4 linked regions of the Homo sapiens genome follow. The protein of the gene in region 1 purifies or fractionates together with the protein of each later gene. This does not show direct contact. Each region holds a gene or a part of one and is shown on either strand. Other genes may lie near its edges.

Region 1 (5,308 bases):
AACATGCCACCCTGTGGAAAACAGTTCCCAGCCTCTAGCTGTGGATTCACTTGTGTCCTGGCTTTCCTGCCTATTAAATATATGACTGCCCATTGACAAATTGTTGGACTATAAGGCCCCAAAGAGTCTGTTTCAACAGAACCTGCAGCGAGAGTGTCAAAGGAAGGGAGCTGGCCGGGAGTGGGATTGGCACCCAGAGCTCAGGGTGCTGGAGGGACAGCCGCATTGGCAAAGATTCTTCTCGTGGCTGAGGCACCAAGCCCAGTGCCGACTGTTAGAGACGCTGAGATTTCAGAGCTGGGGTCTGGGAGGTCATGGAGCCTACCACCTCCTCTCTAGGTGGCGGCCTCAGGAAGCACACATCTTCCACTTCAGCTCCTGTTCAAGATTCCATGTTTCCCAGAGAGGCCTAAATTGGAAGGCTAGGGTCTTCCTCTCGCTAGCCCCTGCCCTCTGGAGGCTGGGGATAGAGTTGTCTCTGAATGGAGCATGGGATGAGAACAGAAGTGTCCAGAGTCACCCCCTGCTGTGCTCTCCAGCCCCAATAGTCCCCTGTACTCAGCATTTCTTGTTTGTATTTACAGATCAATCAAACCCAGTCTATCCGCACCACGTTTCCTCAACACTCACTGATGGCTATTAATCAGCAGGCCGGTGGGGCTGCTCCCCACCGTGTGAGGGTCTTGTTAATGATGGGGAGAAGACTGCCAAATGGCCAGCGTGGCTCCAGATGGATGCAGAAATATGGGTCTTGCCCAGACCAAGGAGGCAAGGGCATCACCACGATCCATCTGGCATGGAACAGAGATCCCTGGTGCTTGATAACAAGAACTGGGTAGGCCTTCTCTCTGCGAAGAATGGTGTTAAAAGTTCTTCCACGTGCCCCCCACCTCCTTTCATGCAGATGATCTGGGAAACTGAAAACAGGGTAAAAGGAGACCTCGGGGGGAAGGAAGGTTACCTAGCTGTTCCTGCATTAAAGGACCTATGAGATGGTCTATAGCAGCAGCAGGAGGGATTTAAGCTAGATGTCCAGAAGTATTTCCCAATGGGAAGGCTGCTAAGCACTCTCCCAGGACAGGAATGTGATCTATGACTCACAGGTCTTATACTCTAAGTCCCCTGCTCAGCCCGCACTATGTTTATATATACGTATGCACAAGCTTGACTTTTCCATAAGTACACACAATTGAGGGAAACTGGTCTAGTATTTATTTGGTGAAACTTGATGTCCTCTCCCCTGGGTGCTGGGTCATGGTGCTGACCAGGCATCGCCTGAATGACTGGATTAGCAGCCATGTCAACAAGCCTTTGCTCTCCAGACAATGTGCCAAGCTGTAGGTAACAGGCTGGGGACACCAAGTCCCAAAGGAATTATAGAGATCGGTAATAGCCTAGTGGAGCACACTCTAAACGCCAAAGGTGTGGCTCAGCAGGAACCTAGCAACTCAGAGGGAGGTGTCCAAGAAGCCGATCACGGAGGCTCCGAGTGGGGAGGGGAGACTGCAGACCCAGCTTGAGGTGCACCTCATGGTTGTTTGGTTTCTAATGGGGGAGTTCTGGGCAGGCCCAAGAGGAGACATTTTGGGGTCCCTGGAACTGCTCTCTTTTCCCAAGAATCTGTCCTGAAATGGGTACCCAGAGCCACAGGCCTGTTAGAACTTGTCACATGGAGAACATGACTTTTAATTAGGGACAAGGTCTTGAGGAAGGGGCCTTCGCAGAGTCTCTTTTGCCCCCAAGAGCCTCTCACAGGCCAAGGATGGGGCTCCAGGAATCCCTAGCCCAGTGGAGAGCAGGGTCAAGGAAGGGGTAAGAGTTCATCCATCTGCCCTGAGATGGCATTTTATCTCCCAGAAGCTGCAGGCTCAGCTGTCCAGGCCCTCCTGGGCCAGGACCTTCTGGACCGAACACAGGCCCCAGTCCTCCTCCCCTGCAGGTCCAGGCTTAATGGTTTTACATGGTGAACAGTTCTCAGGGACCCAAACCTTGAGCCTCCCTGGATTAAATGAGGCTGAGCCCCTGAGTCTAGAAGTAACTGGGGGGCCTCCTTCCACCCTCTACCTCCATGTAGGGCTGCAGAAGAACCAGCAGGAACAAATATGGCAATTTAATTTTTACAGTTTCCAGATGGAAAGAAAGGAAACTTGTTTTAAGGGCTGTATGGCATGATGGTTAGGAACAAAAGGTGAAGGTTTGATTGCTAGCTGTGCCATCTACTAGCTTGTGGCCTTTCACACACGCACACACGCACACAAAAAAACCGTCAAGGATGAATGAGGGTTGATTTGATTCTTAAGGGCCTAAATCATCTGGAGAATGGGGACAAGCAATAACACCAACCTTGCAGGATTGACCTGAAGAATAAATGAACCAATAATATAAAATGCTTGGAACAACACCAGCACGTAGTAAGCACTAAAACGAAACAAACAAACAAAAGAGCTGGCTATTATTACTAAACACCCTTCCGGCAATGGCAGGGTCATCATTTCCACATAGGAAGAGTTTACAGCAGTGAGTACGTGGAAGGAAGATCTTCAAGACTTGTTTTGAAAACCGATTTGCACAGCAAGCAAACTTTTGTTCCTTTTTCAATTTTTTCTTATGCTGTAAGAGGATCACGGACATATTTTCTTCATAGAGTTTAAATGAAATGATACGTATAATGTGCTTAGAACTGTGCCTGTCACTTAGCAAGCACTCAGTAAATCCTACTTGTTTATTTGGGGTGGCTGGAGAGAGTGCTGGAGATTATAATGAAAGATATACAGTAGGGGCACCATTAGGCCCCCACTATGGCCAGGATGCCTCTTGTTAGGAGGTTCTGTTCTGTTCCATAGTCAACATTAGTCTTCCCTGCTATGGGGTAAACTGGCATTTAGACATAAGAATTTCCAGACAATCAATCAGGGTGTCAGACCTGGGCCAAGCTCCCAAGAAAGCTTCCTGCAGCTCTTCCCCCGGAGGTGCTCATTGGTCAAAAGAATGCACATCATGACCTCTGAAAGGTCCTTGCTGCCTCAGGACTCTGACTGCAGCATTTGAGCTCCTGGTCCAAAGACCAGCGCTATCCAGCCCACAATGGATGAGCTGGGTTTATGGCTGGGGAGAGACACGGGAGCTGGAATGTAAAACAAATGGACCGTAAGCACCTTGTGTGCTCTCTCTGGCTGTGGAGTATACAGACACACACTTTCACCTGCTCCCCTGCTCCAGGCCTGGCCTGGCCCCCTCCCAGAGGGGCCCCCCGGATTGGAGAAAGGGTCAGAGGACTCAGGAACACTGGGAGCACTCCCTTTACCATGGTAAGGAGTTGAACACACTATGCTGCCTCTGAAAACAACAGAACAGCAGAGTCAGCCTCGCCCCATTAGCCACCCACTCGGGACACTTTACCTCGTGGATCCCAAAGTGGGCATAGGAGTCGAAGTAATAATCTCTCGAGGTCATCTCCTCTGGGTTCAGCAGCTTGGACATCTTGCCCCGTCCTGGGCAGCTGGGTTGAGTGGACACATGATGGACGCATTGCACGGGCTTAGCAGGGACGACGGGCTGGGGGGGCTGGGAGGGGGGGCTGTTCACCTGAGGGGAAGAGAAGGGGGTCGGGTGTTAGGAGAGACAACGGGGTCCCGCCCTCGGAGGCTTGCGGTCCTCTTTCCTTCCCCCTCCCTGAGCCCGGCCTCAAGCAGCCACAGCAGCCCTTCCTGAAAGGGAGGTAGGTGAGCCCTTCCAGCTCCCAGCAGTTGGGCTCATGGCTGTGATCTGTCCAGAGATGGCAGTCCACCGAGGAGCCACACACACCTAGATTTCACCCACCTTCAGCTCTTATTAGCTAGGTGACCTGAGCAATGCAGGCCTCAGTTTCTGTATCTGTGAAATGGGGAAAATAGTATCTTCCTTTGAAGGCAAATAGGAAACATTCAATAAAGGGAAAGATGCATAGCACAGCATGGTGCCTGAGAGTGTAGATTCCGGAGCTGAATCCCAGCTCTGCCATTTCCCAGCTATACAACTTTGGGCAAACTTATGAACTTCTCAGTGCCTCAGTTTCCTTTTCTCTAAAATGGGAATAAAATGGTCCCTGCCTCCTAGAGTTGTCCTGAGGATTAGACAAGTTTGTATTTCAAAGTGCTTAGAAAAGGGCCAGGCATATAGTAAGAGTTTGTTAGAGGAAACGAAGTCCCACCTGCATCCTCAGGAACGTGAACCCATGGGCTTCTCTCCACTCAACAGGCAGCATCAAGCTAGAAGAGGATACGGCCCCCAAAATGCAGATGTCTTAGGTTCTGGTGTCTCCTACCTGTTGTCTTGCCCCCTAGTTTCTGATTCACAGTTCTACCCTGAATTCAGCACTGTGGATACCCACACTGATGGCCTCCACACAACCAATTATTGCTATTTCTGGGTGCCCCAATCCTGAGGCCCAGCCCAGCTCTACACCCACTGCTGCTGCCCATCACTGTCTGCTCCCTGGTCCTCCACAGGCTAGGCGGAGCAGGGAGAAGGAGATGGGGGTCCACAGAGCTTCTGGAGCCCAGAGACAGCAATTGGAGCCCAGAAGCTCAAACACTGCAACAGAAGCAGTTATGCCAGGAGACCTCCTCTGCCTGGAGTGCAGGAGACCCAGATGTACAAGGCACAGTAAAGGCCTCAAAGCAGGGCTGAACTAGAAAAATAAAAAAAGGAGTATTATCTAGTAGTCAGTCCTCTAGGGCTGGGAATCCAGGCTCCTGGGTCCTATCCTGGCTCTAGTAAAATTAAAAATAGATACTAGGAGGCAGATAGCGAACTGGCTGAAAGTACAAACCCTGGAGCCACAGTGCCTGACTCTGAAACCCAGCGCTTGTTGGCTGTGTGACCTTGGGAAATAATTTGTCATCACTGTGCCTCAGCTTTTCCTCCTCTATAGAACACAAATCATAATAAAACCTACCTGAAAAATTTGTCCAAAAGTTTGGAGGAGTTGATATATGGAAAGACTTTAGAACAGGCTGGCACATAGTAAGTGCTTATGATTATTACATACATCATGTCCTTGTTCTATGTCTCGATTTTCTTGTCTGTGAGCTGGGTCAGCTCAGACTTACTGTCTCCTTTCTAGCAAGAGAAACAGGGGAATCCTAGGACACAGCAAGATCAAGAAAGCCAAGTTATTTCAACCCCTCCGTGGAATCACTCCGCGCAGTCCCAAGACTGTTCTGTGTCCAGGGCTGCAGGGGAGTGAGCTGGGGGCAGTGGGATGGTCCCATCTTCCCAGTGTACCTAGGCTACCGCCCTTGGGAAATAAGCAGACTTCCCAGTTTAG
Region 2 (4,404 bases), on another chromosome or scaffold:
TATCAAACACACAGCAGTTTGAGATATTTTTTCTATTTCCAGCTCTGTAAACAATCTTTAGAAGAAAATATAAATGAAATACTTAAGAATGTTAAGGGTAATTTGTGGTTGACAACTACATAAGAAACTCATCCAGCAACCATTCTGTAGTTGCATAAAGCCAGAGACACCGGGCCACAGCCCTGTAGCAGTTTATAAGGTGAATGGAGAATAAATTAGTATAATTTAGTCCCAGATAGTCAGCACCCACAGAAGTGAAGATGACATGCTCTTTTTGAAATGCTGATCCATAACACTCTCCTGCCACCAAGTGAACTTCTGTCAGCATGACAACTACGAAAACCTTACTATAAATTCAAAGCAGCAGGCATATTTTTTGTAGAGTAGATCTAGTGGCAGGAATAAGTCATCTCGTGAGTGTTACTAATAAGGTTATTCCCAGAAGAAAGGAGGGGGGAACAAACAGAGGGGAAAAGGGTAAAGAAAAAGAAGCATCCAAAAAAATGGAAGAGAAAAAAATGAAAAAAATCAGAAAAGAATAAAACAGCTGCTCACATTCCAAAGTTTTCTTAAAGGTATTTTTGTACTTCCAGTAATCTTAAACTGCATTTTCTTCTCCACTTTAAATCCTTTGGCTAATGTTTAAAACCTGATTTTCGGCCGGGCACAGTGGCTCACGCCTGTAATCCCAGCACTTTGGGAGGCCGAGGCAGGCAGATCATGAGGTCAGGAGATCGAGACCATCCTGGCCAACACGGTGAAATCCCGTCTCTACTAAAAATACAAAAAATTAGCCGGGCATGGTGGCGGGCGCCTGTAGTCCCAGTGGCTCGGGAGGCTGAGGCAGGAGAATGGTGTGAACCTGGGAGGCGGAGCTTGCAGTGAGCTGAGATAGCGCCACTGCACTCCAGCCTGGGCGACGAGCGAGACTCCGTCTCAAAAACAAACAAACAAAAAAATTATATAGACTTTTCTGACCGAATGTGGTGGCTCATGCCTGTAATCCAAGCCACCCTGGGAGGCCGAGGTGGACGGCTTGAGCCCAGGAGTTTGAGACCAGCCTGGGCAACACGGTGAAACCCTGTCTCTACAAAAAATACAAAAATTAGGTGGGCATGGTGGCTCATGCCTGTAGTCTTAGCTACTCGGGAAGCTGAGGTGGGAAGGTCACTTGAACCCGGGAGACAGAGGTTGCAGTAAGCCGAGAATCATGCCACTGCACTCTAGCCTGGGTAACAGAGCGAGACTCTGTATCCAAAAAAAAAAAAAAAAAATATATATATATATATATATATATATATATACTTTTCCTCCTCAGAAAAATCCAATATTCCAGAGTCAACATGACAGCATAAGCTGTGTTGCTGGCAGTGTAACTATGGTCCTCCAATGAAGGCAGGACGCCTCGGTAAAATTTAAGCACAAAACTATGATGACCATTAACAACATACTCAGTTCCTGTCACAGGAAAAACAGTAAATTTATGGCAAGCAAAAAGAAAGGGCAATATGAAAGACCTATAACTCAGAGGCTGACTGGAACTGGAGGGTAGGACTGCTAATGTAATTCTTGGGTAATAATTTGCTTGGATGTGTTTTATTGCCTCCCTCATATGCAAGTAATCAACTGATTTATTCAAATATATTACCAATCTGTCTATTTCGAAATATTTTTACCTTCTAGATCTAGAACTTCAACTGGATGTTTAGAGAGCTTTCTTAACTTTAACCTTGAGGTTTTAGCTACTGTGCTCTCTAGGAGAATTTAAGATTACATGCATTCCTTACCTGGGTGCCCAGCAACATCTTCCTTTTCTGCAGAGTAGAAAATATAATCCACAGTTATGGCACTTCGGGAATGACAGGTGGTCACTTCTGGAATTCCAGTGTCAGGAAAGTAATGTGAATAAACAGATGACAAACTGAAATGGTGCTGTAAATTTGAAGACAATCTAAATAGAAAAGAAGAAGTGTTTAGAATCCGAGTTTTTGTAACTTCAAGAATTCCTCCTATCTGAATTTCTTTTTCACTTAATTTCTAGACTAAGACCAAACATTAGGACAAGCTTTATTTAAAAAGACCATATCATAATTTAGTATTAATTTACTTATGCAGTGATATCTAAAACCCATCAATAAAGCCATTATAAATGTGGTTTTTAAAAAAAGCTCAATAATTAACATACTAATGTGTTTTTTCATTATTTATAACGTGTGAATGCCTCCACTTACTAAAGAACATGTATTCTAACAAGTTTTATTGTGTTTTTAAGAAAGAGAATCAAGGGGGTCTTCAGGAACACTATTTGGAATCCTCTAGACTTTTGATGACAGAGAGGCCATATTCTTCTCTAATTTTTCTTGCTATCACATATAATTTTGTACTGCATCTTAAAACAGCTTCTCTAATGGTTTATTATATTTGCCCCATGCACAAATATATGTGATGTTATGAGTAAAAGGTTTAAAGACTATTTTCTAGTGATACTTTATGAATCTTAAGGATCTTTTATGCCTTGAAGGAAAATAAAATTAAAAAAGAAACTTATCCAACAAACATTTACCAAACATCTTCTAAGTTCTAGGCAATATGTCAGGTGCTGAGAATACATAGATGAAGATGTTTCCCTTGCTTTTAAAGTGTTCATATGTCAGGAACAAAGGTAAATCCTTAAAAATGCCCTCTAAGTTTTATTAGCAACTTTTTATGTCTAAGGATTTATAATATTAAACATAAAATAGGGCCGGACGCGGTGGCTCACACCTGTAATCCCAGCACTTTGGGAAGCCAAGGCGGGAAGATTGCTTGAGCTCAGGAGCTCGAGACCAGCCTGGGCAACACAGTGAGACCTCATCTCTACAAAAAAAAAAAAAAAATCTAGAAAAGTAGCTACGCGTGGAGGCACATGCCTGTGGTCTCAGCTACTTGGCAGACTAAGGTAGGAGAAAGGCTTGAGCCTGGGAGGTGGAGGCTGCAGTGAGCCAAGATCATGCCACTGCACTCTAGCCTGGATGACAGTGAGATCAACTCTCAAATAAAAATAATAAATAAAAATAGGTCTTCTGCAAACTCTTATCTATCAATTTTTCAGTTTACAGATATAAGCTATGCATATAAACACTCTGTATTTACATAAAGATACAAAAAAGTATCTTTTTTTTTTTTTTTTTTTGAGACAGAGTCTTGCTCTGTCGCCCAGGCTGGAGTGCAGTGGCATGATCTCAGCTCACTGCAACCTCCACCTCCCAGGTTCACACCATTCTCCTGCCTCAGCCTCCCGAGTAGCTGGGACTACAGGCGCCCACCACCACACCTAGCTAATTTTTTTTTTTGTATCTTTAGTAGAGACGCGGTTTCACCGTGTTAGCCAGGATGGTCTCAATCTCCTGACCTCATGATCCGCCCGCCTCAGCCTCCTAAAGTGCTGGGATTACAGGCGTGAGCCACCGCGCCCGGCCTCTTTTTTTCTTTTAATTTTTAGACACCAAGGGCAAGTAAGGTATCTATTTTTTAAAATTATTATCATTATTGAGACGGAGGCTTGCTTTGTCACCCAGGCTGGAATGCGGTGGTGCGATCTCGGCTCACTGCAACCTCTGCCCCCCAGGGTTCAAGCAATACTCTGCCTCAGCCTACCTGGGATTACACGTGCATGCCACCATGCCCGGCTAATTTTTTGTATTTTTAGTAAAGATGGGGTTTCACCATCTTGGCCAGACTGCTCTTGAACTCCTGACCTCGTGATCCACCCACCTCAGCCTCCCAAAGTGCCGAGATTACAGGCACGAGCCACCACGCCCGGCCAGAATGTTTTAATTTTTTTTTTAATAGAGGCAGGGTCTCACTGTGTTGCCCAGGCTGGTTTCAAACTCCTGGGCTCAAGCAATCCTCCCGCCCTGGCCTCCCAAAGTGCTGAGATTATAGGCGTGAGCCAACACGCCCAGCCAATATCTTTTTTATATCCTATATTGTTACAAAAAGATTTAAGAGTTACTCAAAACGAAGTACTTGTTAGATTAGCCTCCTTATTAATCTTATTCAAAGAAGTTTTTACTATATTGAAAGGTTTAATCATGAATTTTAAAATATTCATTTAAAAAATTTTTTTAAAAATTGCTTCCATTCTTACTAGTTCTTATTTATGTAGTAATATTTTCTCAAAACAAGGTATACAAAATAAAGATTGAGAAGCAGATAAAATAAATGAGAATTGGTCCCTAAATTTAAATGTTAAAACAAAAAACTATAAAACAGCCACAATATAATTAACAATCAAGATATTTCAAGAATCTCCCTGAGACAAGATTTAAGTCTCTGTCCTGTTTTATTAACATGTATCAATTTCTCAACCATAGCCCCAAATATTCCTATTTCTTTAATGAAGAATTCCAGCATCTTCACCCC
Region 3 (4,404 bases), on another chromosome or scaffold:
CAATTCTTGATTAAACGTCAGTAGAGCTTAGATTACCCCTTTTGTTGCAATAACGTTACCCCTTTCAATTTAATTTTTAGGATTGGTAGCTTATGTCGATCTTGATGAAAGAGCAATTGATGCTCTCAGGGAATTTAATGAAGAAGGAGCTCTGTCTGTACTACAGCAGTTCAAGGAAAGTGACTTATCACATGTTCAGGTAAGGTCGTTACTCAGAAATGTCTTTGAACAATTAGTAATCTGAAATTATTTTACTATTACTTTTTTTCCTATGGAGAAGTGGTATTTTTTGTTTGTGACTACCTCTTCTTTTAAAAAATTAGTTTAAAGGAAAAAAACTGCTTGTGGCAGAGTTTCAGAAGCCCAAGTATAAAGCAAAAGTTTTCTCCCACCCCCTTGTGCAGTAAGTTATTTTAAAAACTTAAAATTAAAGCCAAGTTTTGATGGTTGTTACTATAGGTTTTTACATGTTACTCAGCTTTTTAACATTTGGGGGTTATTTGATCCTGTTTTATTATCTTGGAGGAAAATGTAGGTGGGAGGAATAGTTTCCGACATCTGGCAAAGACAGTCTAGATACAGTCACATATCAACAAGTGGAAGACTGTGTTTTCCCAGGGTAGAAGGTAAGCTCCCTGAGGTCTATACTGCCTTACTGCTGTCTGCTCCAATCTCTGGCACATAGTAACCACTCGGCAAATACTTGTTGAATGAATCAGTAAATCTTTTGTTAAAATCCTGGTTTTCTGAAATTTAAATTTAATTATGTATCTGACCCTTCAGATATTTTTGGTGATTCTTTTTATTGAATTACTTGTCTGTTCTAGAACAAAAGTGCATTTTTATGTGGAGTTATGAAGACCTACAGGCAGAGAGAGAAACAGGGGAGCAAGGTGCAAGAGTCCACAAAGGGACCTGATGAAGCGAAGATCAAGGTAAAACTTGACTTGGGTAGTTGTAATGAAATTGCATTTAATGATGAGGTCAAATGCCTCTTTCCATGTTTCCTAGAAAGTTTCACTTTTTTTTTTTTTGAGACGGAGTCTTGCTCTGTCGCCCAGGCTGGAGTAGCGGCGCAGTCTTGGATCACTGCAAGCTCCACCTCCCAAGTTCATGCCATTCTCCTGCCTCAGCCTCCCAAGTAGCTGGGATTACAGCCATGCACCACCACACCCAGCTAATTATTTGTATTTTTAGGAAAGATAGGGTTTCACTGTGTTGGCCAGATTGGTCTCGATCTCCTGACCTTGTGATCCGCCCACCTCGGCCTTCAAAGTGCTGGGATTACAGACGTGAGCCACCACGCCCAGCTGAAAGTTTCACTTTTCAAAACTAGTGTTTAGAAATGAAATAATTTAGAGGAATTACATAAGAAGGATAATTTTGGGGATCGACACTCAATTGCATGTTTAATGAAAAGCCCTAATTCATACTCTTCCTCATTCCCTCTTTTGTGGCCATGAATGACGTATATTTATTGATGCTTCGCTGGTAGTTTCTTGGATTGATCCAGTAATGTCTCTTGGTTCAGTTATTTTCCAGCCACTTTGTTTCTTTTCTCTTGATAAAAAGGTTATAACTTGATAAAAAGTTGTTATAACTGCTTTCCTCCTTTTGAATATTCAGTTACCTCAGTTTCTTTATTTATAAAATGGGGATAGTAATAGTGACTACCTTACAGAGTTATTGTAAGGAGTAAATGAATTAACATATATAAAGCACTTAGAATAATGCCTGGAATGTAGCAAGAACTATATAACCATGAACCATTATTATTATTACCATTTTATTACTTAGATAAACAGCTTTGAAAAGGTAAATATACAGCTTTTAATGAAAGACCAGTGAACCTAATTCCTTAGTTAAATGGATACTCGTGTCTTGCTGTAGTGACATACTTTTCTTTTTTTTTTTTTTTTTTGAGACAGAGTCTCACTCTGTGGCCCAGGCTGGAGTGCTGGAGTGCAGTAGCGCCATCTCAGCTCATCTCAGCTCACTTCAACCTCTGTCTCCTGGGTTCAAGCGATTCTCCTGCCTCAGCCTCCTGAGTAGCTGGGACTACAGGCGTGCGCCACCACATCCAGCTAATTTTTTTTTTTTTTTTTTTTTTTTTTTTTGAGACGGAGTCTCCCTCTGTCGCCCAGGCTGGAGTGCAGTGGCGCGATCTCAGCTCATTGCAAGGTCTGCCTCCTGGGTTCACGCCATTCTCCTGCCTCAGCCTCCTGAGCAGCTGGGACCACAGGTGCCTGCTACCATGCCCGGCTAATTTTTTTTTTCTTGTATTTTTAGTAGAGACAGGGTTTCACTATGTTAGCCAGGATGGTCTCAATCTCCTGACCTCATGATCCGCCCGCCTCGGCCTCCCAAAGTGCTGGGATTACAGGCGTGAGCCACCGTGCCTGGCTGCTAATTTTTTTTGTTTTTTGGTAGAGTCGGGGTTTCACTGTGTTAGCCAGGCTGGTCTCAAACTCCTGACCTTGGGGGATCTGCCTACCTCACCCTCCCCAAAGTGCTGGGATTACAGGTGTGAGCCACCATATCCGGCCTGTGATAGACTTTTTTTTTTTTTTTTGAGACGGAGTCTCGCTCTGTCGCCCAGGCTGGAGTGCAGTGGCGGGATCTCGGCTCACTGCAAGCTCCGCCTCCCGGGTTCACGCCATTCTCCTCCCTCAGCCTCCCGAGTAGCTGGGACTACAGGCGCCCGCCACTACGCCCGGCTAATTTTTTGTATTTTTAGTAGAGACGGGGTTTCACCATTTTAGCCGGGATGGTCTCGATCTCCTGACCTCGTGATCCGCCCGCCTCAGCCTCCCAAAGTGCTGGGATTACAGGCGTGAGCCACCGCGCCCGGCTGTGATAGACTTTTTAATTAGAAATAGTTATTGTATGTTGAAGTTATTTCTATTATTATTACATTGTAATATGTAATGAAATAATTATACAACTCACCATAATGTAGAATCAGTGGGATCCCTGAGCTTGTTTTCCTGCAACTAGATGGTGCCATCTGGGCATACTGGTAGATGGTGACAGATCTTCAAGCATTAGATTCTCATAAGGAGCATGCAACCTAGATCCCTTGTATGCACACTTCACAATAGGATTCACCCTCCTGTGAGAACCTAATGCGGCTGCTGATCTGACAGGAGGTGGAGCTCACAGCTCAGGCAGTAATGCCAATGATAGGGAGGATGAGGAGCGGCTGTAAATACAGATGAAGCTTTGTTCTCACTTGCCCGCTATTTACCTCCTGCTATGCAGCCCGGTTCCTAACAGGCCATGGACCAGTACGGGTCTGTGGCCCAGGGGTGTGGGGACCCCTGTTTTATATTACATTTATGGCTCTGTTTCAGTCAAAGGTAGAAGAATGGAAGGCCGAAGGCATGCATCCCTGTGAAATCCTAGTGTTCACTGAACTTGATGATATCTAAAGTCTCTTATTGTTCTGACATTGTGTAATTTTAAAAACCTGGCTGGGCTCTGTGGCTCACGCCTGTAATCCCAGCACTTTGGGAGGCTGAGGCGGGTGGATCACGAGGTCAGGAGATCGAGACCATCCTGGCTAACAACGGTGAGGCCACCTGTCTACTAAAAATACAAAAAATTAGCCGGGTGTGGTGGCAGGCGCCTGTAGTCCCAGCTACTTGGGAGGCTGAGGCAGGAGAATGGCGTGAACCCGGGAGGCGGAGCTTGCAGTGAGCCAAGATCGCGCCACTGCACTCCAGCCTGAGCGACAGAGCGAGACTCCGTCTCAAAAAAAAAAAACCAAAAAAACTGAAGTGTAAATTTCTCTTTTCTAGGTAGATTGTGTTTCTTTGTTTACCATTGTATCTTTTCTTCTCTAAGCTCTTTATATAGATGTTGCCTCAATTATAACATAAATTCCTGAGAGCAAGGAGATTATCTTCTTTTCTATGATTGCTCTTAATACCTAATAGAATGTAAGGAAGGTTGGTAATCAGGAAACACAAGATTTTACTTATTTTTCGGAACCTGACTATACTTATTTGGTAATTGCCAAATATTTTTAGTCTGTACTGTATGATTCTTGTCTGATTACCTGATTCTTGTGGAGCTTATGATATGGCAGGAGTACAAACCAGAAGGATCAAACAAAATCAAGCTTAAATGATGGAACTTTAAGTACACTAGAGGCTGGGTATGGTGGCTCATTCCTGTAATCCCAGCACTTTGGGAGGCCAAGTCGGGTGGATCACGAGATCAGGAGATTGAGACCATCCTGGCTAACACGGTGAAACCCTGTCTTTACTAAAAATACAAAAAATTAGCCGGGCGTTGTGGCGGGTGCCTGTAGTCCCAGCTGCTCGGGAGGCTGAGGCAGGAAAAGGGCGTGAACCTGGGAGGCGGAGCTTGCAGTGAGCCGAGATCGCGCTACTGCACTCC
Region 4 (3,876 bases), about 42 Mb from region 1:
ATTATTTAACTTTCTATAATTAGAGGGAAAAAATCATAAAGATCATACTTTACATTTTAACCTGACAGAATAAATGCATTATATATATCTCTTTGAAAACCAGTGCACTTAGAAGTTTCTAATTTATGCACTCCATTGCCCTAATCAAAAAGCTATACATTTTCCAGTATCCACACTATAACACAGTCCTAGTAAAGATGCACATTCCTTTAAACCCTTTACTTTCCCTTGAATTTTGTGGGGGAGGGTGGAGGGGAAGGAAGGATACAGAAGTTGCAGTGCAGACCTATATTTATTTAGAACAAAACATCATATCCTATGTTAAAAAAATAATTTTATCAAAACCAAATTTCAATCACAGTTATGTATGATTTTCAGTTAATGGTACATGTTGAAATTGCACTTTGCAGATATCCTGATAATGTCCTTGACAGCGTTCCCCATTTCAGCCTATGTTTTTTTCAGTAGACACAGGTTCTTCCAGAGTTTTCTTTTGGCTCCCCTTCCGTGAATATTTGTATTTGTCTACATAGGCTTTAACCAGATTTGCCACTTTAGTAGAATTTACTTCTCCACTCTTACTATGACAAACCTAAGAAAAAAGGGGTGGGGGGTAAACTTTTTTCATGCTTAAAGGGATTAAAGCCAAAATAGAAAGCTTTGTGAAAAACAACCCCAAAGAGATAACCAGACTTATTTTCATGTTTCATTATCTCACACAAACTAATCAAAAGGCAAAAAAGTAGACAGGAATTAGTAGGAGCTAGCTTTTATTATTTTAATTAAACTTCAGCATTCATTTATTAAAACAGAGGTGGTTCAAAACAACGTGCACATACTCCACTAAAGCCATAACTTACTTTATCTACTGCTTTCCGTACAATTTCTTTATATTCTTCCTTGGTGATATCTTTATTTTGGTAAAATGGCTTGATGGCCAATTTTACCTCTTGTGCTGCTTTTTCTTGAATTTGCAATTTCTGATGAGAAGAAAATGTATAATTTATTATTTGCCAGTCATACTGCTCTCACAAAATCCCAAACAAGAAATTGAAAATACTTCATATTTACAATAAGAGACTCTCCAACTATTAACGTGACAAATATAAAACAGTTTATTTACTAAAACATATCAAACATTTCTAAAAACAATTATAAAATATTACCAGTAATTTACTGGACATCAACACATCTAGAGAGAATCCTTCAAATAATAATGGCATTTAGACAGCCAATAAGAAATTCCCTTCACCACTCATACAATAAAAAGCTGATATTTTTTCTCCTTTATCATATACAGAATTATGAAGGTTGCTCTCAACCTTGAACTTGCCTTGTCTGTCTTCGAGCTATCTGCGCTGGCTTCCACTGCAACACTTACTTTGCTTTCTGCCAATTTTACAGCAGCATTAGAGGCTTTGCTGTGACTTGATGACGAAGTATTACCAGAACTTGGTCCCTGAACCATTCCCGTATTTCCTGGGGCTGCTGTCGGAGCAGGCAAAACTGGTGTACTCATGTTATTACTTACATGAGAAGAACTAGGAATACCCTGTTTTAAAGAGTTATCATCAGTTAATGAATTACTTGTACTCGATAGAAGTCTTTTAGTGATGCATTAGAAATAACATTAAAAAACACAAAGCAAACCAACCTTAGTACTAAAGAAAAATGCATATTTCAGGTAATTATATCTAAAGGGCCCTTTAAAGAAAAATGAGTAACATTCTTAAACGGGGCCTTATTTAGATATGTCAAGATGACTTTTAAATTATATATATGTATTGTAACATTTTGACAGCAATACTAAACACAAGGAGGAGAATAGCATTTAAAGAATTATATCTTTCCTGCAAGGATCTTTAGGAATATTAACAAATATTAAAGTGCCCTCACTTTAAAGCCTGGAAAAAATAAGGCAGTAAAGTCAAATGGCTTGTAGTAAGTTGACAGGAGAAAAAAGGCTTGCAGTAAGTTGACAGGAGAAAAAGATTAAGATCCCAAATACTAAAATCCAATTTCCCTATTCCTTCAACTCTATCTTACTGTCAGGATTCTATTTATTTTATTTTATTTTAATTAATTATTTATTTATTTAGAGACGAAGTCTCACTCTGTCTCCCAGGCTGGAGTGCAGTGGCGCGATCTTGGCTCACTGCAATCTCCGACTACCAGGTTCAAGTGATTCTTGAGCCTCAGCCTCCGAGTAGCTGGGATTACAGGAATGCATCACCGCGCCTGGCTAATTTTTGTATTTTTTTTTTTCTAGACAGAGTCTTGCTCTGTCACCCAGGCTGGAGTGCAGTGGTGCAATCTCGGCTCACTGCAACCTCCGCCTCCTGGGTTCAAGCAATTCTCCTGCCTCAACCTCCTTAGTAGCTGGGATTACAGGCGCTTGCCACCACACCCGGCTAATTTTTGTATTTTTAGTAGAGGCAGGGTTTCACCATGTTGGCCAGGCTGATCCTGACCTCGTGATTCACCCACCTGGGCCTCACAAGGTGCTGGGATAACAGGCGTGAGCCACCATGCCCGGCCTAGGATTCTAAAATTTTTAAAAGGCAGTCATAAAATTATAAGCAACAAATTGTTTGCAAATTATTCAAATTTTCTATGTCTCACAGAGGCACTTCTCCTTTCTTTTTAGCATGATAAATTCATGAAAATGAAACACAGATGGTAATGGATAATAAACAGCTTTATCCAGTGTTTGTCTGAACAAGACAATAAAAGCTTCATCACAGTACTTAATCACTAGTTCCCACCGTCCCCATATACCCCCTAAACAGTGCAAAACAGGGGAAAAATGTAAAGCACCCACCACTCGATTCTAATTTGGCTTATAATTTGGTTTACTTAATATGAATAAAAAAATCCTGTTCAGATATAAGTAACAGCATATATGTAGCTTGGATTTGGTAATAAGTATTTAATTAATTTTCTAATTTGGGAGTTGGGGGGTTTTGAGAAGGATAGTGAAAGAGGGATTATGAAGGTTTACCATAACTGAAATCAAATAAACAATTGTTTTTGAATGCCAGGATGCCTTTTTTTGAACATCTGTCATGAACAGCTAAATGTTTACAATGGCTATATTGATTAAACTTGAGTTGCTAAAAACATACCTGCAATTGCTTTCCATCTGGTTGTGAAGCAATGTAGTTGACTTGTTGGGATGGTGGGGGAGGGGGTGGTGGTGGTGGTAGTCCCTGAGATACACTGGTAGGAGTGGCTACCTGCATGAGGGGCACTCCTGTGTGGAGATGCAAGGGTAGCTGAGGATGAATGTTAAATGGATTGCGTTGGATGTTCATCAAAGGAGCATGAACACCCACTGGATATGGGAAGATATTCATAGGCTGGTGTTGTGCATTCATTTGTTGCTGCATTACATTCATTTGCGGTTGCATCATATTTATAGGTAGCTGAGAACCATCAACTTGCTGGTTTGTTTGGTCTTTTAGGCTAGAATCTATCAAAAGAAAAAAAGCTTGTGAAAAAAATCATGTTATAAATCTCTTTAGACAGAGAAACAAAGAACCACTGGTTACAGTAAAATTAAATAGCAATTAATAGGCTCAGTATACCAATACCAATCTCCAATTGCTTAATTTAATCCTGTCATTTCTAAATAATGTGGACTGACTTTCTAATGAAAGAAAACATTTGGCGAGGCACGGTGGCTCAAGCCTGTAATCCCAGCACTTTGGGAGGCCAAGGCGGGCAGATCACCTGAGGTCAGGTGTTCGAGAGCAGCCTGGCCAACATGGTGAAACCCCGTCTCTACTAAAAAAATACAAAAATTAGCCAGGCGTGGTGGTGAGCGCCTGTAATCCCAGCTAGTCAGGAGGCTGGAGAATTGCTTGAACCCAGGAG

Evidence for each region. The genes of interacting proteins can lie anywhere in the genome.
Region 2: the proteins of PRMT8 (region 1) and ANGEL2 purify together in Homo sapiens (affinity purification with mass spectrometry; 4 studies listed by BioGRID and IntAct, with this or other methods). This does not show direct contact.
Region 3: the proteins of PRMT8 (region 1) and HNRNPR purify together in Homo sapiens (affinity purification with mass spectrometry; 3 studies listed by BioGRID and IntAct, with this or other methods). This does not show direct contact.
Region 4: the proteins of PRMT8 (region 1) and SCAF11 purify together in Homo sapiens (affinity purification with mass spectrometry; 4 studies listed by BioGRID and IntAct, with this or other methods). This does not show direct contact.

What each region holds. Positions count from the first base shown.
Region 1 is NC_000012.12:3,538,883-3,544,190, reverse strand, and holds part of PRMT8 (protein arginine N-methyltransferase 8), read right to left. Parts: intron 3,586-5,308; coding exon 3,400-3,585; intron 1-3,399. UniProt on the Homo sapiens protein: S-adenosyl-L-methionine-dependent and membrane-associated arginine methyltransferase that can both catalyze the formation of omega-N monomethylarginine (MMA) and asymmetrical dimethylarginine (aDMA) in proteins such as NIFK, myelin basic protein, histone H4, H2A and H2A/H2B dimer.
Region 2 is NC_000001.11:212,995,368-212,999,771, forward strand, and holds part of ANGEL2 (protein angel homolog 2), read right to left. Parts: intron 1,952-4,404; coding exon 1,788-1,951; intron 1-1,787.
Region 3 is NC_000001.11:23,334,285-23,338,688, reverse strand, and holds part of HNRNPR (heterogeneous nuclear ribonucleoprotein R), read left to right. Parts: intron 1-80; coding exon 81-199; intron 200-827; coding exon 828-935; intron 936-4,404. UniProt on the Homo sapiens protein: Component of ribonucleosomes, which are complexes of at least 20 other different heterogeneous nuclear ribonucleoproteins (hnRNP). hnRNP play an important role in processing of precursor mRNA in the nucleus.
Region 4 is NC_000012.12:45,921,603-45,925,478, forward strand, and holds part of SCAF11 (protein SCAF11), read right to left. Parts: intron 3,473-3,876; coding exon 3,126-3,472; intron 1,553-3,125; coding exon 1,334-1,552; intron 981-1,333; coding exon 861-980; intron 593-860; coding exon 446-592; 3' UTR 1-445. UniProt on the Homo sapiens protein: Plays a role in pre-mRNA alternative splicing by regulating spliceosome assembly.